3 linked regions of the Homo sapiens genome follow. The protein of the gene in region 1 interacts with the protein of each later gene in a pairwise test. Each region holds a gene or a part of one and is shown on either strand. Other genes may lie near its edges.

Evidence for each region.
Region 2: the proteins of BNIP3L (region 1) and CLN8 interact in a two-hybrid assay, tested with the Homo sapiens proteins (one study listed by BioGRID).
Region 3: the proteins of BNIP3L (region 1) and STEAP3 interact in a two-hybrid assay, tested with the Homo sapiens proteins (one study listed by BioGRID).

What each region holds. Positions count from the first base shown.
Region 1 is NC_000008.11:26,385,434-26,393,990, reverse strand, and holds part of BNIP3L (BCL2/adenovirus E1B 19 kDa protein-interacting protein 3-like), read right to left. Parts: intron 3,579-8,557; exon of another isoform or gene 3,474-3,578; intron 2,749-3,473; coding exon 2,565-2,748; intron 1-2,564.
Region 2 is NC_000008.11:1,766,744-1,774,751, forward strand, and holds part of CLN8 (protein CLN8), read left to right. Parts: intron 1-4,188; 5' UTR 4,189-4,311; coding exon 4,312-4,854; intron 4,855-6,180; coding exon of another isoform or gene 6,181-6,429; exon of another isoform or gene 6,430-8,008. UniProt on the Homo sapiens protein: Could play a role in cell proliferation during neuronal differentiation and in protection against cell death.
Region 3 is NC_000002.12:119,219,985-119,227,796, forward strand, and holds the start of STEAP3 (metalloreductase STEAP3), read left to right. Parts: upstream 1-3,849; 5' UTR 3,850-3,904; intron 3,905-7,812.

The DNA.
Region 1 (8,557 bases):
ATTAATGTATAGAGACGTTGGTGAGACTGACTCAGAAATAAGATCGTCAGAAATTTATCAGACAGATTAGGCCTAGGAGTCTTTTAGACTAGTATAATTGACATAGGAGATTTTTAAATGGGGACAGGAAAACAGAAAAGCTGGTTCTGTATCAAACCAACGTCATATATATTTAGGAAATTTTTGTCTTGAACTAGCACAGGAGTCAACCCGAACTGGGCACTCCTACTGGCCTCAGTTTACTATCTTTGTGCTCATAACTGTTGGGTTCACAGCTACACATCAAGTTAAGGGTCAGCCTTACATAGCCGTGACCAGGTCAAGGCAGTCAGGGTGACAAAGTCAAGAATCCTATGGAAGCATTGCTCTGCTTCTATATGCTTCTTCACACTGGTACCAACCTCTTCTCTAAACTGTTTACTCCTCCTAACAATTTGGAATGCATTAGAGCTTCACCCATGGCACATATTAGAATCGGCTGGGGAGCTTTTAAAATATTGTGACGTCTCTACCCTGCCCCTGTCAACCAAAATGAGAAGTTCTTGAGATGCAGTCCATGTGCTGCCATTTTTAAAAGCTTCTGGGTGAATCTAGTGTGCCGTCAAGGTGAAAACCCCTGTGACAGGGTGAAAGGCAAAGCAGAACACACTGGGGTTCCCAGCTAACAACCCCTGCGGCAACACAAATATTTCTATGGAATAATTTTTAAGTTGAAAATATACATAAATCAGCTCTAGGACTGATACCCAACAACCCTAAAACATTTCCCCCTACAAGAAACACTTTCCAATTACTTTTCACATATAGAGACGCATGGCAATTCAGATGATGTGAGTTTTGAAGACACTCCTCAATGGTAAAGCGTGTTAGTAGGCTATCCCAGAAGACTCGAGTTCTAGCCATTCTCTGAAAGATGACCACTAATCTAGGGCCTGGAGAGACATAAGATGAGGGGTACGAAAGTGTTCAAAAGCATTTGCCATGCCTCCTCATGGCAACCTAAACTTAAACATGATCATAGGAGGGTGAAGGCATATTCAGTCACACGTAAAACTGCACCATAAATGAAGTAAGATGAACAGACAGGTAAGCAGGTGACTGTTCTCTGCTCATTGACAGCACCATGTGAACAACAGGCTCATGGACACCATGGTATCAATGATCAAGGCCCACACACCTGAACGCAGAGTGAAAGCCTTGTTGACAGGCCATAACAAGCAGAAAACTTGAGAAACCCATCAGCAAGTTCCATAATATAAATATAAATCTTCATTCGGAAAGACAGACTAATGCTGTAGCTACTGGAATCAAGGGCAAGCTGTTCAGAAGAGAGCCATCTGCTCTGGTTCCGCTTATGACAAGAGCCATCCCAGGCTCTAAGAAGCACAGGGACAAGTCAGGGATGACACGGGGGTGGCGGGGGTGCACAGTGTGCCACAGAGCCAACAAACCAGTCCCCCGCTGCCTTGGCAACATTAGTGGATCATAAGCCACTCAGGAAGTTGGACATGATTTAACTCATTTCTCCTTTTTTTCACTTCTTCTGATAAGTAATAATATGTGCAATATACACAATTTTTACAAAATACAAAAATGTTAAGAAGAAACATATCCATACTGCATTCCTAAAAATAGTCACTGTTTACATTTCCTTAATCTGCTTCCCGTGCATTTGCATTTTCTAAATGGTTAACATCAGTTAACAACCACCCAGAAGGTCATCCAGTGCCCCATAATGCTAACAGTGTAGCTGTCACTGAAACAAGAATTTCTTAAATGTCATTTAATATCTAGCCCTTCTGAAAAAAAAAAAAAAAAACAGAAAAGTTTATACTAAAAAATAATGACCTGGTTTCATTCCACACACATATCTCGTTGTATTCTTACTCTTTCACCATAAGCAGTCCTTAATCCATGTAATTAGTTTCTTCAGCTCAAATATAGAAAAATGAGGTCTGAAACAAAACATCCCCTGAGAAAGCAGAGGAGACTTCAAAACTATCTTTACAGACCTTGGTTGGTGCTTCCAACTGTGCAAATATTGCTATAACGTGAAGCAACCTGCAGTTCCTATGAATCAAACATTTACTGAGTGTCTACTACGTGCCAGCACCATTACTGTGAAGGTAATAAAAATTAAACATGGCCCCTGCCCTTTGCAACGTCAACATCTAGAAGGGAAGACACATATATACAGAGGTAACTAATTCAAGAACAGTCTGTGATCTGTAACACAGGGACACAAAGGAAAATGGGGGAAAGTCAGATTAATTCTATAAATTAGCATTTATGCCACTGAATTTTAAACTGATAAACTGCTAGAAACAATATAATCTGGGTAAGAAAAATGACAATCTGGGGAAAAACAGTGGGCACTGAAGCACCTGTCAATTAGCTGTCTCATATAAACACAATATATATCTGTGCAATATATATTATACTACAATATATCAGGAGGCATATTTTGCTAAGTGAAGATTTAAGCAAACAGATTTTTCCTAGAGTGAATGAGCCCTGTAACCCACCTGTTTCCTGAATTCCACCAAAACATGGGTCTCACTTACCTGTCACAGTGAGAACTGCCTCTGGAACTACTCTGTCCTGATTCATGTTGTGCATCCAAAAGAATCTTCTCCATGTCTCCATTGTGGATGGAGGATGAGGATGGTACGTGTTCCAGCCCCCCATTTTTCCCATTGCCATTATCATTGCCATTGCTGCTGTTCATGGGTAGCTCCACCCAGGAACCTGTTGGACAAGTCAGATAAGTTAACCACAGCAGAACTGAAATCTGTCATGTGCACACAGATGTGAACATGGTGAATCCAGATAAGAATTCTGACTCTCCTCAAACCAAATGTAAAAGTATTCTGAAGAAAATAAATAAGAAGTAATAAAAGTCTAAAGATCTATATAGTTCTGTTCCTGAAATAGCTCATGCCATCAACTGAGAAACAGCTCAAACTCTAAAACATCTCAGAAAACGTGTTTTTCAGTCAATTTCTCTCTGGGTAAAGCTTGGTTTATAATAACACTCTACTGAAAACTCAGGTTGCTTTTCAAAAAAAAATTGCTACTTTTAGGCTATTTACCTTTAACATTTTAGTTGGTGTATATATACACACACACTTTCTTCATAGTCTACCTAAGCTGCTCAGCTGTATCTGCTCCAGAAATGAAATAAATATATCACCTACAAATTTCATAAAAGGTCATCTAAGTAAGTTAGCAACTATATCCTACTTAGTGCAAACAACTGAGAAACTCCTAGAGAGGGAACCTAAATCCAATAGCAAAAATTTCAATTTGTGCACAAATCAGGAGCATAAAATTAATGCAGCTGGTTAACTAAATCAGGTAATAATGCTAAAAATTCAGAAAAAAGCTTTATCTCTATCTCACTGATTAGTTTCTTCATTTCCTTTGTATCTCAGGCTTTCTAGTCCTTCTCCTTTTTTATACACTAAACATACCTTGTGAACTTGTCTTTTTTCTTTTCTCTCCCACGGGTTTCTACTTTCTAGGGTTTTCATTAAACCCTGTTGATTTGGGAGCAGAAACAACTGCACATCAGCTACAGGCAAACACGAAAAGTTTTCTTGGACAAAAAGTTGAAGGGGTGGAGCCACAGAAAAAGGGGATGTGCCACTGGTAATTCTGCATACATCTTGAAAATATTTATTGGTCTGATGAGTTTGCTAAACGTATTAAGGTGCTTTAATTTTAACAAGAGTTGAGGCCAGGTACAGTGGCTCACACATGTAATCCCAGCACTTTGGGAGGCTGAGGCACCAGGATTGCTTGAATCCAGGAGTTTGACACCAGCCTGGGGAACATGGCAAGACCCTGTCTCTACAAAAGAATAGTAAGTAAGTAAGTAAATAAATTGTTAACAGTAGCCAATAAACTTAACTTCACAGCAAAAAGAGATAGTGGTATATTTTGTTCATAATTTCCATTTCTTACAATAAATTTTGTTTTAGAAAATGTACCCAAGCAGCTTGGTGTGGCCATCCCTCTAAACTCCCAGCAGAAGTGTTAGAGAGTTCCAGGGATGAACAAGGAGTTCCATCAGTAAGTTGAAGTAAAATCATCAAAACTGGCTCAAACTCTAAAATGCACTCTAAATGTGGCGATGGCTACACCAGTTCCAGAGTGAACTGAACATCACCCTCACAAGAAGGAAAGCTCCAAGGCAGACCTAGCTGGGAATCTGACCCCATCACTTCCTGTCTACCTGTGTGACCTGAGCTTCAGCTTCCTCATTTGTAAACAGAGATAATAATAACACCGGGGTGCTGTGACGATTTAGTAGTATCAAGTGCTGGTAAATAGAAGATGCTCAGTTATACACTAGAATTTTCTTTTATAAATACTTAGAACCCTTTCCTTTCCATTTGAGGCAGCCCCAGTGGCTACCACCATCCCATAGTCACCACCAATTCCTTAGGACTCTGCTGCCAAACGACACAGTTGTACAACATCTCCATGGCCTCATTCTATACACACATAAAATGGACACAGGCTAGAGAACTCAAAATGGATTAACAAATACAACTAGCAAAGCTAAGAGAGATCTAACATTGAAGATAATTTATCTCGAGTGCCTCTGGAGTGTATAAGAAATACGCCAAAAGCATCCCTAAATTTAGAGCTCTGCAACATATTTCAACTGGAGAGAAAGGGGGTGGGGGAGAGAATATGTATATAAAAACAGTTTTTTTTTCTGACTCTCACTGTTTCTAGGATTTTCAAACTTATTTTTAAACCAATGGGACCAGTTCTTCTTGTATAGAAGCCTAATGTGTACAATAGTAACAAACCAAAACCCAGAGCTGCTCTGACAGAAGCAGAGGTAAGGAACCAGGAGTTCCAGATAGGTCTCTGTGGAAGTCAGTCTTCCCTAAAATACAATTAATATTCACTTGAAGTAGGCAATCGAAGAGAAAAAAGGGTGTAACAAACAATATCAGGTTTTCTGGTCCTTACTTTTGTTTTTCTTTTGAGACAGTCTTGCATTGTCACCCAGGCTGTAGTACAGTGGCACAATCACAGCTCACTGCGGCCTTGATTCCTGGGCCCAAGCAATCCTCCCACCTCAGCCTCCCAAGAAGCTGGGACTACAGGGCACATGCCACCATGCCCGACTTATTTATTTATTTATTTATTTATTTATTTATTTAGTAGAGACAGGGTCTCCCTACATTGCCCAGGTTGGTCTCAAACTCCTGGGCTTCAGCAATCCTCCCACCTCAGCCTCCCAAAGTGCTGGGCTTACAGGTATGAGCCACTGCTCCCAACCTGGTTTTTACTTTTTTGAAGGACTTTCAAATCAATGTCTGGATCCTATTTTCTTCATTAAAAACACATAAGCAATCATAATCCAATATATACTTTTGGAACCTGAAAGAGACATACCTAGAAAAGCTTAGTAAAAGTGATCTCTGCTGTGGCCTCCACACCCTGAATCATAACTGAAAGCATTTCTACTTAAGGCGGACAATTTGTACTTGGGATACACTGGTATAGTGTGGTCAGGGGCTGAGACTGAAGCCAGGCTCCCACTCTCAGTTATAGCTGTTACCCTCGCACAGGGTACTTAACCTCTTTGTGCCTCAGTTTTCTCATCTATAAAATAGAGATAATAACTGTATCTACCTCGAAGACTTTGTTAGGAGGATTAAATGAATATAGCACGCAGAACAATAAGAAAGGTCCCTAAGAAAGTTTTAGCTACTACAATTATATTCTATATCATAGAAAAACCATTCCTTACTGGAAAAATGTGTTCCTAGAAAACGTAAACATCAGTACATAAAATTAAAAATTAACATCTCTCCCAACCTCCCGTTCCTACTCCCAAAGGAGCCACTTTTGACAGTTTCACATGGAGACTTGCAGAGTTTTTGTCAATGAAATATAGGTCTGTTTTTGCTTTTGTTTTTATAAAGAAATGGAACTGTACCATACACACATACTGACATATTCTGTAAGTCGTTTTTCAGATGTCTTCCCTATCAATATATACTGACATTCATTCTTTTGAACAACTGCATTGCATCTCATCTTTTATAAAGATATACCATACTTTAACCATTATCTAAATGGCAATGGTTAACTACTACTGAGATGGTTGTTTCTAATACTTTGTTATTACAATTAGGGCTTCAGTGAACATTCTGGAGAATAATTTGACAATAGGTATTAACAGCCTTAAAAGTGTAGATTTCCTTTAATTAATTAAGGGTAATTCTCTTTCAAAAATATCATCTATGGAAATACATAGTGGTACAGAGAAAGTTATGTACACAGGCATTAAGAGGCTACATATTAATCTTTTGAGTAACACATAAAAAAGCAAATGTGTCTTCCTCAATAGATGAACAACACGTCTGTTTCCCATCACCCGATTTGTTCCTGATTTACAGCCTCAGAATTTCTTAGTGTTCTAACTCTACCAATCCTCACAAAGTCCCTTTTTACTTGGAAAGGAAACAAGGCTAGATAAGAGGTTTGTGCTGTCCAAGCAACACAAAGTAGAAAACAACCACAGAGTGAATTCTCCTCCTAATGATCAAGCTTGAAAACTAAAAGCTGGAAGCTTTCTCCATTATCTAAAAGACTTTACAAACTAAGAGCTGTTCCTTATGCCAATTTGTACATAACATACAATGACATGAGATATTTTCTGGTTTGGGTTTTTGGGAATGACTAAGAGATTCAGAGAAACTTCTGTGAATGCTTCTCCGTTCTCTAACATAATAGACTGTGAAGGGTGGTCCAATAATTGTGATTATACTCATTGCCGTATGTTGTATAATCTTTACAGTTTTATAATCACTAGTTCAATCCTCTTGCAAGAAGAAGAAGAGAGGAGCTTTGGGACAAGGGGAGGAGAGAATGAAGAGTATTTCTCCTCATCTTTCCCCCTAACTTTTCAAGGCCCACATGTAACTCTTTTGAAATTTCATTATATTTACATTCTTTCCTCAAAGCTTTTCATTCATTATTGAAAGGAATCCAGACCAGGCCAACCTGATGCTGAAATCCAGACCAGGCCAACAAGAGTTACTGGCATTCTTCTTAAATAAAAAAATAAATAAATAAATTTTTGAAAAGTTGGTCTTTTTGCAGCAGTATGTATTTACATACAAGTTACGTAGGTATTCAAAACATTATTATGAGGCAGTGACAATCCATGAAGGCCTTAAGAGCACTCTTCATAACAAGAAAGCAAGGACATTGTGCTTGAAGATGTTTCTATTTAAAAAAAAGAGTTTGTGACCAGCTTGGGCAACAAAGCAAAACTCCATCTCTACAAAAAATAAGTTAGCCGGTGACCAGCCTGGGTGACAAAGTGAAACTCGAACTCTACAAGAAATAAAATAATTAGCTGGATGTGGGGGTGCACACCTGCAGTCCTAGCTACTTGGGAGGCTGAGGCAGGAGGATCACTTGAGCCCAGGAGGTCTAAGCTGCCATGAGCTATGACTGTACCACTGCACTCCAGTTTGGGTGACAAAGCAAGACCCTGTCTCAACAAAACAAAAAACAAAAAAGAACAAGAAAATTTGAAAAGAAAAAAAAGGCTATACTTCTCAACAACAAGAATTATACTACGATTTACACTACTACTTTGATTTTCCTTATTCGGCCCTATTGAATCTTATTCAAACATTCTTAAGGAAGTTGATAGTTTTCTTAACAATAAAACAAACTGGACAACATCCTTTTGACTTGGAAGGAGTTTGGGTATTTGCCCTGTAATTTTTAATGAAAGTGAACAGTCTCTCCACAGCGGTAAAGTTAAAAAAAAATCACAAAAATACTTCACTATTCAAATACTTCAGTAATTTGCTATTGAAACCCTGCTTTGACCCCTGAACCAAAGATAAAATCCCAAACGCAAGATAATCTGTACATTTCTTCTCCTGTTTTTCAGTTGTGCAACTTTACCCAACAAAGTCCTTCGACTTATCAGCAATTTGGATAGTACTAGATGCCTGAATAAGTTGTTTTGCCCATTGCCCAAAAATCACTTCAAGGAATTCAATGAGGCTTCTTGTTTTGTTCAGTACAGTGTTGTGTAATGAGCTAAAAAAACGAACAGAGTGAGAGGCAAGAAGGGAGTAATTAAATATGGCAATATCTAAAAGCTTTTCAGAAAGCTCACCCTATCCCACACAAAATACTTTCTATCTAGCAGATGTCCCAAAGCAACATTTTGATGTCCCATGCAGGCTGAGTGTACTTCCACCTCTGTAAGAGCTGATGTCAGCCAAGCAGGAACCGACTGGCCAAAGACATCAAACTCCTCATAGGTCTGTCAGACACCAAGATAAACAATGACATATGGCTCAGCCCCCGCCCTCGCCCCTTTTTTTTTTTGAGACAGAGTCTTGCTCTGTCACCCAGGCTGGAGTGCAGTGGCGTGATCTCGGCTCACTGCAACCTCTGCCTCCCGGATTCAAGCGATTCTCCTGCCTCAGCCGCCTGAATAGCTGGGATTACAGGCGCCCAACACCAAGCCAGGCTAATTTTTGTATTTTCAGTAGAG
Region 2 (8,008 bases), about 25 Mb from region 1:
TACACTTAAGGACTCCTTCATGTGGCCTGAGCCTTATGGTGCACAGCAAGGGAACAGTGGGAACCCCTGTGTCCCATTTTGCGTATCAAGAGTGAGAGGGTGTGGTTGGGTCAAGGAGCAGAAATAGAAGCAAAAGGAGAAGCTGAGCTCTTCCCATACCCCTTCTGTGCTGCCTGACAGAACAAGGCCTAGCCACACTTCTGTGGGTGCCCACCTTGTGACTTGGGGTGAACCACAGCTGTTCTCAGTACAACGCTGATGCCACGAAAGGACAGCAGAGCTCTGCAGGACTCCAGGAAGACTGGGCGCTTGGGCTGGATCCTGCCTCTGGGACTGGCCTTCTACCCTCATGGCTGAGAGAGCTGAGGAGTTCACCTCCTTTGTGAACTCCTGGCTGGAGGATGCTGGTTGGCATTAACTAAACTCAGAGACCCACAGTAACGAGTTAGACTAGAACAGCACCAGCTTACCCAGAAAGTCAGGAGGTTTGAGCAAAGAATCAGAATGGGGGATTCACTACAGGACTGGAAGGGGAAGTAAGCATTCTGGTCTTTATAATCTGCTGTTTCTGCATCCCTAATTGGCACCTGTTCTCTGACTGCCAGGAGGGTTTGCCCACTCAGCTGTGGCTTACCTGTTTCTGTTTCCATGTCTTTCACCTATCTGCCACTTTTCTGTAGATATGGTAATCTCTCCAAAAAGATATCTAGAAAGCTTGAAGACCTGGTAGCTATTTGCTCTTATGGTGAAGATCACACAAACTAGTTGAACATCTGGCTTGTAGTAGGTGCTTCATTTCCCGCTGCTCTGTATGTTTCTTTCTTTTTTTTTTTTTTTTTTTTTTTTGAGACGGGGTCTCATCTTGTCACCCAGGCTGGAGTGCAGTGGCGCAATCTCAGCTCACTGCCACCTCCACCTCCCGGGTTCAAGCGATTCTCCTGCCTCAGCCTCCCAAGTAGCTGGGATCACAGGCATGTACCACCACGCCCAGCTAATTTTTTGTATCTCTAATAGAGTCGAGGTTTGACCATGTTGGCCAGGCTGGTCTCGAACTTCTGACCTTGTGATGCACCTGCCTTGGCATCCCAAAGTGCTGGGATTACAGGCGTGCGCCACTGCACTCGGCCTGCTCTGTGTATTTCTTTTTCCTGTAGTCAGATTCTGGGGTCCAGGGTGGTTAGGAAAGAAACTTGTTTTCTTTCTTTCTTTTTTTTTTTGAGATGGAGTTTTGCTCTGTTGCCCAGGTTGAAGTGCAGTTGTGTGATCTCGGCTCACTGCAACCTCCACCCTCCTGGGTTCCAGAAATTCTCCTGCCTCAGCCTCCTGAGTAGCTCAAATTACAGGTGCGCACCACCACGCCTGGCTGATTTTTGTATTTTTAGTAGAGGCAGGGTTTTGCCGTGTTGGCCAGGTTGGTCTTGAACTCCTGACCTCAAGTGATTCACCCACCTTGGCTTCCCAAAGTGCTGGGATTACAGGTGTGAGCCACCACACCCAGCCTGAAACTTGGTTTCTTAGCTCCTAAATAGTGAAATCAAGATCAGAGCCCACTAAGCCAGCCGCTCTTCTTGGTTTTTGGTTCTCATGTCCTGGAGTCCCTCTCACCTTGACCAAACCAAAGACCTCCTGAAGCATCACTTGGGCTCACCACTTCCACTGAGGTGGATTTGAGTCATTGATCTGGGCAGAGCCTTCTGGAGTCGGGGTTTCTCTCGTCTCAAGGCAGAGGTCCTACAGAAGTTAGTGGTCTTGGCCAAGCGGACATTGATGCAACTGTGGCAAAATGGGACCTATAAGTCAGAGCTGATGACCTACTCGTGGAAAAGTACAGGGAGAAGTTTTACGAGGGGTCCATATTTTAACCTTTAACAGTGTTGTTCACGTTAACCCTTGTAATGGATGCTATTCCTTGCCTGATACCTGTCCTTTCCACCCAGCCTGCTTTTCTTTAATGCTGGTAAGCGGTCTCCCCTCCAGGCATTAGGCTGCACTTGAAGTTGATCTGCTCCTGTGAAGTGCATAGGGGTTCAACGATGCCTTGCTGCACACTGAATACCAGAGCCGAGTGCTCTTGCCAGCCCCTTAATACCATGTTCAACCTGATTTGTCAACAGGTTAACAGAAATGTGTTTGGAGATGTGTAAGTACACTGGAGTCTTGATATATAGCATGACCAGAAGTGTGGGTCACGAGGGCACACATGGGCATGGCAGCCCCTCAGTTGTCATCCATAGCATCTATCAGAGAGCACGCCTGTGTGCCCTGAACTCACGCACCAGGGGCAGCATGACACGGGAGCCGTTTCTCTAGGGAGAAACATGAGTACCAGTGCTGTCTTTCCCCACATCAGATTTGTGTTCAAACAGAGCTAGTCTGTGTTAAAGCTGGAGTGTTAATGGAGAAACAGACAAACTCTTGTACTATTTTGCCTTTGATTATAGACCATTATCAAAGCAAGAGGTTAGGAGTGATCAGTGCTCCCTTGTCATTTGCATCAGGTCCCAGGACTCACATTCTTTGCATGCTTGTGTGAGCTAGTGTTTTCCATGTCCTTGGGGTGTGGTCACAGCGACCTTTTTGCCTGAATAATGATTGGCAAGTTTTTGCTGAATGGCCACAGTGAATGGCTCCTCCTATGCTTCTGGCTCTAGTCCTGCTGTCTCACAATTGAGTCAATTCTGGGGTCTCTTCCGGAGAGCAGAGGGTCCAGCTGCGTGGGGAGTGTGGTGTTCCCAGCCCTGCTGTCTGTTCGCTGGGTGTGAGTGACAAGAGTCCCCACTCCCTGCAGAAATTCCATTACCTGGACAAGTCCCTGCACACTGGGTGAGGGGGGACCAGGCGGGGACCTGAGTCTTTGTCGGTAGCCGTTCCTATGTCATCGTTGTGTGCCTGGGTTTCCTGCCGTGTAAAAGGAAAGGCTGGAATCAATCACACGTCCCTTCCAGTTTTTCAAGAACTTGAGACTCTGGTGTTTGTAGCTTTGCAGACAGGTTCAGGCTTAGGTAAAGTGGACCCTTTCAGCATGATTCAGCATCTGTTCATGTGTTCCATAAATGTTTCTTGAGGGCCCACTGTGGACCCAGTGCTGCATCAGGCAGAGGAGATGCTGTGATGGAAGGCAGGTGTGGTCTGTGCCCTCACAGAGCTTGCTGTCCAGTGGAGGTGAGGATTCAGTAAGCACTTGTCCTATGTGCACCCCACCAGCAAGTCTCCCGCCTTCACAGCAGTCCCAATCAGTCACACAATTCAGGCATCGCAGGATGAAACATATTTAAGTCATTACACTGGGATACACTTTGTTACAGCACTGAACTTCTGCTGTTTGATCCTAGTTAACACCCCAAACACCAAAAATGAGTGTTTGGGGTATGCATCAGGAGCTTGTAGCAAAGGTACTTAACCCAGTCCATGGGTCTCCCCTACTCTGGGAGGGCATCTGGAGCAAATGGCCTTTAAGTGAGGACCTGACAGGTAAGATGATGCCAACTTGGGGAAGGTAAAGACTTTTCCAGGAGAGGGCCCAGCAGCTGCAGAGACCCAGAGGTGCAGGAGAGTGTGATGTTTTCAAAGGACTGGAAGGTTATAGCATGGAGTGAGATGCAGGGGATGGTGAGAGTGGAACCAGAGAAGGTATAATTGATAATCACATTCTGCAGAGTGCCGTAGGTCACAGTGAGGAGTTCAGGCCTTCCCTGCTGCTGTTGAGAAGGCATTCCATGGCCTTAACCAAGGAATAACATGAAGAACAGGAGCACAGGTTTTCGTGACATCCTTGGGGTGTTAACTAGGATCAAACAGCAGAAGTTCAGTGCTGTAACAAAGTGTATCCCAGTGTAATGACTTAAATATGTTTCATCCTGCGATGCCTGAATTGTGTGACTGATTGGGACTGCTGTGAAGGCGGGAGACTTGCTGGTGGGGTGCACATAGGACGAGCATAGGACCGTGTGTTCCTGCCAGCACGGCTCCGGCCTCCTGTTCGTGGCTGGACCGCTCTAGCTTTAGTTTCATTTTCTTTCCTCCTATACTGTCAGTGGATGTTACCTTGGTATGTTTATGCACCCTTGTAAGTTCATTAAGAATAAGGTACAGAATTAAATATTTTGTAGTTTAATGTTTGCGTTACTGGGGTAGTGATGTGTCCTTGTTTCTATCGAGTCAACACAAAATGAATGATCTTTCTTTTAGATTGAAGATGGATACGTGACAATCCCAGGGACCGCTGCACTGACTTCATTTCCTTAGACAAGACACAGTGTAGGGCCCGGCCCGTGTTGGCCCCAGGACTCCTTTGGAATATAGCTGTGGACAATGAATCCTGCGAGCGATGGGGGCACATCAGAGAGCATTTTTGACCTGGACTATGCATCCTGGGGGATCCGCTCCACGCTGATGGTCGCTGGCTTTGTCTTCTACTTGGGCGTCTTTGTGGTCTGCCACCAGCTGTCCTCTTCCCTGAATGCCACTTACCGTTCTTTGGTGGCCAGAGAGAAGGTCTTCTGGGACCTGGCGGCCACGCGTGCAGTCTTTGGTGTTCAGAGCACAGCCGCAGGCCTGTGGGCTCTGCTGGGGGACCCTGTGCTGCATGCCGACAAGGCGCGTGGCCAGCAGAACTGGTGCTGGTTTCACATCACGACAGCAACGGGATTCTTTTGCTTTGAAAATGTTGCAGTCCACCTGTCCAACTTGATCTTCCGGACATTTGACTTGTTTCTGGTTATCCACCATCTCTTTGCCTTTCTTGGGTTTCTTGGCTGCTTGGTCAATCTCCAAGCTGGCCACTATCTAGCTATGACCACGTTGCTCCTGGAGATGAGCACGCCCTTTACCTGCGTTTCCTGGATGCTCTTAAAGGTAAGTGCATGCATCAGCAGAAGATGACATGTGCCTCACGCATTTAATCACTGGCTACAATGTCCTGGACGCTGCCATAAACTCAACAGCAGGCTGGATTGCAGCACACACATTCAGTTACAAACTCATTTTAGTTGAATGCAATATTCTGGTTTTGTTTATTTATTTATTTATTTTGAGACGGATTCTGGCTCTCGTCCAGGCTGGAGGCAATTTTCTTAATTTTAAGTCTTTTAGGCTTTCTCTTCCTTAAGGAAAGAAAGCTCAGTAGATTTTATGGCTCAGTAGATAGCGTCTGGAAGCACTTAATTTTTTCCTTTCTTTTAATACTATATTTATTTATTTATTTATTTTTTGAGACGGAGCCTCACTCTGTCGCCCAGGCTGGAGTACAATGGCATGGTTTCGGCTCACTGCAACCTCCGCCTCCTGGGTTCAAGTGATTCTCCTGCGTCAGCCTCCCTAGTAGCTAGGACTACAGGTGCGCACCACCACACCTGGCTACCTTTTTTGTCTTTTTAGTAGAGATGGGGTTTCACTATGTTGGTCAGGCTGGTCTTGAACTCCTGACCTTGTGGTCCGCCTGCCTGGGCCTCCCAAAGTGCTGGAATTACAAATGTGAGCCACCGTGCCTGGCCTCTTTTAATACTTTAGAAAAACTGAAGTAATATCTGTGCGTACACACATACCTTGCTTGCTTTTTATTTTTGAATAAGGTTGTTGTACTAGTGCTCAGAAGTGTTGGGACCTAGCATAGTTATTTGCCTAGCACTTTCTTTCTGTTTTTGAAGAACATGTTTTAAAAATATTTGTCACTTGATTGTCATATTGATGTCAAAATGTTCTTCATGTTAAACTCTTTAAACTTTTTTTCCTTTTGAGACGGAATCTTGCTCTGTTGCCCAGGCTGGAGTGCAGTGGCATGATCTTGGCTCACTGCAACCTCCGCCACCCGGATTCAAGCAATTCTCTTGCCTCAGCCTCCCAAGTAGCTGGGATTACAGCGCCCACCACCACGCCTAGCTAATTTGTGTGTGTGTGTGTGTGTGTGTGTGTATTTTTAGTAGAGACGGAGTTTCACTGTGTTGGCCAGGCTGGTCTTGAACTCCTGACCTCAGGTGATCTCCCCGCCTTGGCCTCCCAAAATGCTGGGATTACAGGCATGAGCCACCGTGCACAGCCTTAAAATTGTTTTTACATAGATTCTTGCTATCTTTTATGACCCATCACATTGTTTATGGGATATTTGATATGAAATTTGAGATCCTGCAAATGTTCAGCCATTCACACAAATGGGTCATGTTACTGCACATTTCTTGTCTACAGGAGACTGGTAGCCTCGAGAGGAAAAATAAGCATAACAAATCACTCCTGCCTTCGGGGTCGAGGTGGGTAGATGATATCAGTCCATCAAAAGTGCACTGCAGTGTAAACAGTACAGACTGTTCATGCATAACCACCATGGACACCAGCCGGGTGTCAGATACTGTGCTGGCACCTGGGAACTCAAGGAGGAACTTGTGTTCCTGGTGTCCCCTGAGGTTGGCCCCATCTGGCACCAGATGGGGTGTGTGAGCACAGTGACAGGAAAGTGCAGAGAAACCATGGCCCCAGATGCGGACCCTCTGCAGGAGGAGCAGGTGAGCACCTCGGAGTTAAGGCAAGTGAATGAGGGTGAGTGAGGCACAGTCGTCGCCAGTACAGAGCCTCACAGGGTGGCCATGGAAGTAGATGGAGCCTATGGCAGGCGATACTGGAGACATCCTGGTGAGTGCGTGGTTTGGGCGGTGGCAGGAGGAGGTTGGGGGCCGGTGTGATTTGGGTAGAACTTACCAAGGAAGAAGGGTTGGAACCATGAATAGTTTGAAAGAGCCCCTCCGGTGACCTGGCTACTGAGTTCCCTTGGCGAGCAAATGACTGAATATGAAGCTGCTGGTCTAAGTGTGGGTCATTTTGGGAACGATGCTGTGACCTGGGACCCCATCAGCATCCTGTACGCAGCTTGCAGTTTTCCAGTTTTCTCTTTGTGGGCGTTATTTCCATAAGAGTGCAGACTTCTGGGATGCAGGTCAGGGCTGTGACTTCCCTGGGTTTCTCTGGAGTGAGATCAGTGTGGAGTGGAGAGGTGTGTGCTGGAGGAAGAGGCCTTGGCCTGTGCTCCGCATTGCCTACTCCTCTCACCTGGAAACACCGGACTTCAGGAGTCACTCGGCTGTGGCAGAAAATAAAGTTCTTGAAAGGAAAGCAGAGGCGCTCACTCACATCGATGCCCTAAACATCAATACCACATCAATGTCCCAAGTGGTAAATAGTGACTAAATTATTAATACATCCCACAAGATGGTGTGCTTGAGGTCATTAGTGTATTTTGAGAAATAGATTAATAGTTATCTTGTATTTTATTTTTATTACAAGTTCTTTAAAAACAACAAGAAAGACGTGAGTCTTTCTGTCTCTCCAGTCCTCAGGGGAAAGCAGTGTTGGATTTCTCCAGGGTTTTATCTGTGCTTCTCCTGGAGCCAGGTGTGGGGACAGCGTCTCCAGCAGTTCTCCCTCCCCTGGTGTGGTGGTGGAGCCCAGCCTCCAGGAGGACAGACTCAGCGAGATTTTATTTTGAAGTTTGCACATTCTCTAAAGCTTTTAGGGTGCTGTTTGTGTAGAATGGAGAAAGGGTTATTTAAGTATTTACTTCTAACCCTGCTCATGTTAACTGTATAAAGCCAACAGACCCTAATAAGAGAAAATTATAACCTAAATTAATATAGCTCAGGGCCAGTATGTCTACATAGTTCTATTTTGCTCTAGTTGAAATACTAATAAATGCAGTAAGAAAACACTATGTCTAAAATGTTGAAATTCTTTGAAATTCTTTTAAAGCTGATAGATTCTTGCATAGTAGTAGGGCATGAGGATTCAACATTTCTCCCCCATCAAGGTCTGATTTGATCAGAACTAAAGGATGTAAAGACAAAATATTACCATCAATTTAGGATGGGGGTCTAAGTCAAGCACAGTGGCTTATTCTTCGTATTTCTGTCTTAGATTTGGTTCTACTATTTATCCACAGACTCACTAGTTCATAATACAAATGAGGTGATATAAAAGCACTGTCAGGCCAAGTGCGGTGGCTCACACCTGTAATCCCAGCACTTTG
Region 3 (7,812 bases), on another chromosome or scaffold:
TCTTCCTTCAGCAACTGCCTTTATCAATGCTCCCTTGAGCCAAAATAAACAAATAAAAAGCAACTTCCTTTGGAAGCTACTCCATACTCTTGCGCTGGCCACAGTTACATCTCCCTGCAGATACACAGATTCTCATGACACAGAGCTCAGACAGTGCTTCCTCTCTGGAGGGCTCATGTTTCGAGAGAAGACTGGAAGGAGGACAACCTTATGCTCCAGTAGAATTCCAAATTCTGGGGTGCAGGGACATTTCGTGTGTGTATGTGGAGGGGGGGGTGTCCTAATGCCCTGTAAGCCACACTTTATAATGCTGTACAATATTGGGTCACCATCATGGGCCATGGAAAGCAGAATCTGTGAGGTTCAGTCCCAGGCTCCAGCACCCCTTTGTCAGCTGGCCTCCCCGCTCAGTGCCCTCTCCCACTACCTGCCCTGCCTCAGCTCTGACTGCTGCTGATGTGCCTCCACCCATCAGGTCATTGTGATGGCAAAGACAATGCCTCCATTTGCCCTGAATGCAGCCTTACATAGGAAAGAGCTTCCTGTGCTCCAGAACTTGGAGGAGTCCTGCAGCACCTGGTCTAGTGGGGAGAGCATCAGTGGGGAGCGGCACCTTTCCTGCAGCCACGGCCCACTGGGCAGGACCAGATCCAAGTGGCCTGGCTTCTGGCTAGGGTGTCAGAGTACATTGGGGCATACAGCTTCCCGTGGCCATCTCGTTTTCATGGAGGATTTATTTTGTGAAGTGGACCTGCTCTGTCCCATCCTATAAATGCTGGATTAATCCAAGAAGCTGAGGGTGAGCAACATCCCTCTCCTTCCTGATCAAATAAGAAATAAATCTAGATTTTCTCCTGGATGCTATTCTCTTCTTAGCCAAACAGCTAACCTTGTCTTCAAGGAAAAAGGGCAATCCCAGGGGCTCTGTAAATTGAATATTCAGCAACTCCAGGGGCAGACATCCCTAAGTGCATAAGTGGAGCACCCCTCTGAATCAGCATCACACCAGCTGGGGGCATAAAAAGGAGAGCAGAGTAGGCAGGAGCTGTGGGGACATTTCTGAGATGCTAAAAGAGGCAAGGAAGTGTGAGGACGGGTGTGCATTCATGCAACAGGTATTTACTGAGCACCTACTATGAGCCAGGCAGTGCTCTATCCATTAGAGATACGGAATTGAATAAAACATAAAAATCCCTGCCCAGGAGGAGCTCACATTTCTATGGGAGAAGACAGTTACTGAAAAACAGTCCAAAAAACTCTATTTTATAGTGTGTTCAGAGGTAATACAGGCTATGGGGAAAAAAAGAAAGCAAGCAGGTACATGGATGAGGAATGGGGGCGATCAGCGTGGGCCTCACAGAAATGATGACCTTTCAGCCAAGACTTGGAGGAGGTAGGGAGGGTACCTGGGGATGCCTAGGGTCCAGGCAAGGGGAACGGCAGGGGTCAGGATCCTGTCAGATTCATCTGAGGTGGGACTGAATGTGAGCAGAGAGAGGGAGACAGAGGATGAGGGCAGAGAGAAGGCCAATCACACTGGGCCACGGCTATTGCAAGGACTTTACTTTTGCTGGGGGAGGGGGTAGAGTTTTGAGCAGAGGAGAAATGCGATCTGGCAAACATCTTGCAAGGATGGCTCTGACTGTTCTATCCTTGGCAGAGGACACCAGAGTCTGGCCCATAGAAGGTGCTCAACAAAGCTCAGCACATTGCACTCCTCCCTGGAGTAGGAAAGGGCTCGTCTGCTTTGGGAAATTTGGCTCTCAAGCTTCTGGAAACACCTGACCCCATGCCAGGTGAGACAAGCTCACACTCAAGGCCCCCTTAGTCCAACGGTCAGTGGACAGAACAAGCACCAAAGGTCAACGGCGTGGGCGGTGGCCTCTCTGCCAAAGTGTGTGGGCCCAAGTAGGGTATTCACCTCCCTCCCTGTCTGTGAGAAATTTCAGACCCCTCTACTTTTTCCAGCAGGAGTTCATGTTCCTTTTAAGATAATCCTCTATAGACCTCTGGCAGCCCAGCCTTCAAAATGTCTCCCCCTGTCTCTCTTACTCATGGAGAGCCCCGCTTCCCCGCCTCAAAAAAAAGTCTTCCTCTCTCTTACTCATGCATGGAGAGCCCCACAAAAAGACACTGGTTCCCAGGGATTCTTCCAAAGATGCTGGAAGACCTCTCAGTGTTTGCATTTCCCAAGCTCGGTTTCCTTGTGCTGTCCTTGGGCATTAAAGGAAGGCTATTCAGCCATCCCCATCAGCAGGAGCAGGCATCAAAAGAACAGCTACTGCAGGGGGAGCATATTAGGGGCACCAGAGGGGGCTAGGAACTGGGTCTTGTCTTCTCAAAGTTTACAACCCACTGCAGGGGCCACTCACCAGCCCTGGCACCCTAAGGGCAGGAACCTCCATTGGGCACGTGTGTCTCCAGCACTGGGAGCACTGTCTGGCACCTGGGGCACTGTGAGTGTTGAATGGATAAAGGACCTGTAAGAATTGCCATAAGAGGTGTTGCCCTGGGGCAAGGTGGGACAGGAAAGTTCTTGCAAGAGAAGAGAGGCTCTGGCCTTGGGCCCTGGCTGAGCAGAGAGCTGGGAGGTGGGTATTCGGGTAGGAGGAAAGCTGTGGAGGGGGAAAGCAAACTGCCTGCGGGGGTGGGGGGGTTCTCGGCGGGAGTTGGGGGTGGAGGGAAAGGCGCTTTACAGCAGCACTCCCTCCACAGGGAGACCAGAGCTCTGCCTCTTCCTCCCCACCGTGCCCTTTGGGGTCCAGTTGTGGGGCCTTCCTTGAGGCCCAGCTCCTGCCTCTGGCCTCCGGAGGCTTATCTCCCCAACAGAGGCTGGCTCCCCAGAAAACAGGATTCTTAGACTTCCTAAAAATAACCTGAAGCTCCTTATCAGAGGCTAATAGTGTATGTCTCCCAGGAATACTCTAGAAAGAGTACCAGGGGTCAGGAACCCCCACTCAGCCTCCACGAATCTGAGCGGAAAAGCCCGGGTCTCCTCACCTGTAAAGAAAATAACTGCAGCCGGCAAATGTGACCACAGGTGAGAAGGGGCTTCGGACCAGGGCGCACACCTCTAGAGAGGTGCCCACAGACAGCCTCCCCTTACTTACGCCCTGCTTCGCTGCAGTGCTGTGAAGCCATCGGCATTGGAAGTGCGGAGGGCAGCGGGCAGTGCCCCAGGGGGAAGGGGGGACGGGTAGGGTTTCAGAGCCCAGAAGGCCTAGACAGGGAGGCAGCTCCGGGAGAAAGGTACCCGCCATCCCACCGGTCTTGGAACCTGAGGACTGCTGGGAAGGGTCAAAAGTCTGCCCTAAGGGTGGACAAGGGACAGAGATTGGGGGGGGACCACAAAGGCCTGGGCGCAACCTTGTTGAGAGGGAAGGGATCCGGACCCAATCTGGAGCCCTGGTCTCTTCCCACCTGCAACCGTGGCTGCCACTTGGCCTCGGTTATAAAATGGACAAGGATTCGAGGTGCTCCTCAGGTTAAGAGAGGGGGGCCTAGAGGTCACCCTGGCCTCGGTGCCCTCCGTGGCCGGGTTAAGAGGAGGTCCCGGAGTTCTGCTCACTTCAGCCGTGTGCCGGGCACTGCAAATCAGGAAGTGTTGGCGCCGGCTGGCGACCTCCCGCCTGGGGCCAGGGGAGGAGGGTGGTTGGACGCTGCCACCGCTGCCGGGGCTGTGCAGGGCTGGGCGGGGAGCGAGGACCCGGCGGCTCCTGATTGCGGCCCCGGGGGAGGTGGCCGAGCCGGATAAGCTGCGGCGGGCTGGAGGGCGGCCACCTCCCCTGCAGGTCCGGCCCTCCCGGGCGGGTGGGGCGCGGGGGAGGAGGAGCCTCGGGCCGAGCCACCGCCTTCGCCGCGGACCTTCAGCTGCCGCGGTCGCTCCGAGCGGCGGGCCGCAGAGGTGAGTGTACCCTCCCCCGGTCTCCGCGGGGCTGCGTGCTGCGCCCGGTCCCCGAGACGCCCGCCCGGTTGCACCCTGCGCCGTCGCTGCGCGGACCTCGGGTGCCGCCACACGTCTGGAGGCGACTTCTGTCCCCTGGGACCGAGCCACGTGCGCCCGGCGGCAGAGAAACCGGGTTCCGGGGCCCCCACCCCGTGTGCCTTCCTTCCCTAGGCGTGGAAGCCGCTTGCGCCGCGCAGGTTAGGCAGGGCCGGCGGCGACAGTGGCGGGGAGCAGGCTCCGGAGCCCCGGGTGCAGATGTGGGCGCCCCTCCGGATGACCCCGGCTGAGTCCACAGGTCCCGTGTGCCCCACGGCTGGGGCTCTGGCCAGCGGTCCCAAAGGAGGGCTGGTAGCTGTGGGCGGGGATCTTCCAGGCTCTTCCTCGCCAGACCTCCCAGTCCCTTCGCAGCCGAACAGGGCAGGGACAGGGGCAGGTGCAGGGGCTGGGCAGGGGCGCCCGACCTTGGTCCCCAGGAGGAGGCTGGCCTCACCAGTGCCCGCCTCTGCCCGCGGAGCCCTTGCCTGGCAAAGTTCCCCCTCCTGCCCGGCAAAGCTCCCCCTCCTGCCCACTTCCCCGAAATTTGGGGACAGGCTGCCCGGAGAGGTGTGGTTGGAACTTTGGTCACTCTGGGTAAATGAAGGGGAGGGTGTGCCCAGATAATATGCGGTTTGGGGACCAGAAAGCCGGATCCGTGGGGAGAAGCAGGAAGGTCCCGCTGGAGCCCTGGCAGAGGGCACAGAGAGGCCTCCCAAATATCCAGGGCCACCTCAGAGATGGGCTCCAGAAGTGGGGATTCTGGAAATGCCCCCAGGGAGGTATTTCTGTCCATCAGAGTGCAGCCATAATATAATTAACAGCAGATATTCCCATTTATGTGTGCCAGGCATCTTGCTAAGGGCTTTGAGCACAATATCCCAGTTAATCCTCACAACAGGAAGGCACCATTATCTCTTGTTAAAAATGGGGAAACAGCCTCAGAGAGTCCACGTATTTTGCAAGGATACACAGCTAGGAAGTTGCAGAAGTAGAATTTGAACCCAGAGTTATCTGACTTGGAGCCCAGAGGAACCTACCACTGGGGCGAAACAGGCTGTGTCCTCACGGGGATTCTGGCAGCCCCAAGAATACAGTGCTGAGAGCCAGAAGGTCCACAAAACCAAAGGGTCTCACCTGGGTGTGTCCTCTCAGTCACCTGCAAGGCTTGTTAAAAATATAGATCCCCAAGTCCCATCCGAAGCTGACTGAATCAGCTAGGGGCACCTGGAGGACCCAGACTATGTCTTACTCATCTCTGTCCCTGGTGGCCTGCAGAGGGGCTGGCAAGGAGCAGGTGCTTAGTGAATGTCTAATGGGTAAGTGGGCGGGGTGGGGTAGATGGTGTCACTAGTGTCCTGAAGGGGGCTTAAATGGAGCAGGTGGCCTCAGCCAGGCAATCCGGCAGCAGGTATGGAAGTGACACAGTCTAATGCTGGCCTCAGAGCCAGCAGGGAGCTCAGGCTGGGCCACTTGTCCACCTGGGGGTTGAACAGCCTGCCCCAGGTTTGCTGAGGTCCCCAGGACCAGGCCAGGTCAAGCTGGGATCACACATGTTCCCTCTCCAGCCTAGAGATGTCAAACAGGTAGATTCCTCTCCCATTCATATCTCCTATCCTTGGCCCACAGCCCTTCCCTTCTTGGACTTATCAGAGACCAAGGTGCTGGGCAGGGCTTCAGGTGGTTAAAAAGTGAAAGTTCTTGAGTGAAGTCCAAAGGCGCACACCTGAGAGCTGAGTGGGCAAAAGGTCGCTGGCTGAGTGCTGGGGATAGTCTGGCTTTGGAGTCAGATGGACGAGTCCAAATCTCAGCTCCTTACCCCGTAACATGAAGCCCTCAGCTCTCTGAACCTCTGTTTATTTGCAAAACCTTGCCAAGGGCTTCAAACAGGATATCCTCATAAAACAAGTATGCCTATTTGGGGGACTAAGTGTGTGAAGTGCTGAGTTTTAGGAGTGCAGTAAATATCGGATCCCTCCTTCTTCACCTCAGGTTTGCGAGTTAACCAGTGAGGGGCCTTCCAGGCCTAGTGCTCTTGTAGACCGAACCACTAGCTTTCCTAGAGAAGGCAACTGAGGCCTAGAGAGTGGCCTCCAGGTTCCGTGCTCTGTGGCAGAGCTGGCCTTGGCTCCAAGTCCCAGGGTTCCCAGCTCAGTCTCAGCTGATGCCTCCCAGCCTGGCGGTCTACGCTGCCTGCTACATTCCCTGTCCAGCTACAAATGAACAACTGAGAGGGCTGGGGTGAGATTCAGGCAGGCTGGGGCAAGGGAAGGAAGCAGGTCATTTGGGGAGTCGGGCTCTCTGGTCTTCCAGCTGAGGCTGGATCCACTCTTTCCTGTCCACCCACGGTGCGTAGTGGCCAGGTCTTCCTGAGCTGAGCAGGTTGAGCACTATGAAACTGCTTTCTAGCATCTAGACCAGGGAGTTGCCTCTTGATTTAAAATGAGGATGTTTACCAGTTTAAGTAGTTATTAAAACCTAAGGCCAAGTTGGTGCCTTTCCTCCCTCTAGGAGTTGGAAGGGTGTGTGCTTTTTTCTGCTCCTACCCCACCCCTGCCAAACCATCCCAATTTGAGAGGCTGTGGAGATTACAGAACTTGGAGAGGAGAGGGGCAGGGATCGGGGTTGGAGACTAGATGGTTTTCAAACATTGGGCTACAGAAGTCCCTCTTCCTCCCATCTGTCTCCTGCAGCTGGGTCCACCCACCTGTCCAACACAGCCTCCCACAGGTCCCGGGCCTCTTTGTGCTCCAACCGTCACATCCTTGGCATGCCACACACCCTCACCATCCTGCCTGAAATGCCAGTCCTCATCACTGACATTCAGCCTCCCATGTGCCAGCATCCGGGCCAAACACTTTATCTACAGGAGCTCATTTGTACCTGGAGACTCTTAGGAGGTCGATAATGTTATTCTCCCAACCATGTGACTTTCCAACTCCATATGGACCCCAACCTCTTTTTTTCCACCCCTAACCTGAGACTCCTAGCCACTAACTAACTGCCACATTCTCCTGTCCAAATTCTGCCTCATCGGTTATTCATTCAACAAACACTTACCGAGCACTAACTTTGAGCCAGGCACTCTAAGACCAGCTGAGTCCCACTTCTGGCAGGATGAGTGTTGTTGTCATCAACCACCCCACAAACACCCGTGCCCTCTGCGTACTTGCGAATCTGAGTGAGGAGACACGGTGGCAGTAAGGCTCAGGACCTATAGCTCATGTGAGTGAGCAAGGATGCAAAACCAAAGACACCCGCTCCCCTCACCCACTGAGCTGGAGGGATCAACCACTGTGCCTGCCATCAGGGCTGATGGGCGACTGCTTGTGGATCACAAACTCTTGCGTTGTCACTTCAACCCAGGGGCAGAGTGTGTTCCTCTTCAGGTGTGGCCTGGTCTCGTGAGCCCTGCACTGAATGGGCCAGGCGTTCATTGCTTCAGCACCGTAAGAACACTGTCACCGGAGAATTGTTCGATACTCAACTCTTCCCAGTCAGTCTGTCTTCTGCATGCCCACAGTTACCGGGCAGCGTGGGCAACAAGTGAGCACTGATTGTTCCGCAATCAGGCTGTGACTTACTCCATCTCTGCCTTCTGCTTAATGAGAGCCAGGTGGGAGTTCAGCAAAGATCACATGTTTAAGCCTTGTTATTAAACACGTTAAAAAAATACTGCCCCAAGATTATAAAGCCGACTTCGGTACATATAAAGAGATTTGGGGTCGGTGAATGGGCCCACTAAGCTTTATTTTGTGGTGTCAGCTGTCTTGGTTCATGTGTAGACAGCAGGGCTCCCAAAGCCAGCATGCTGGGGTCTGTGAGGGAACAAG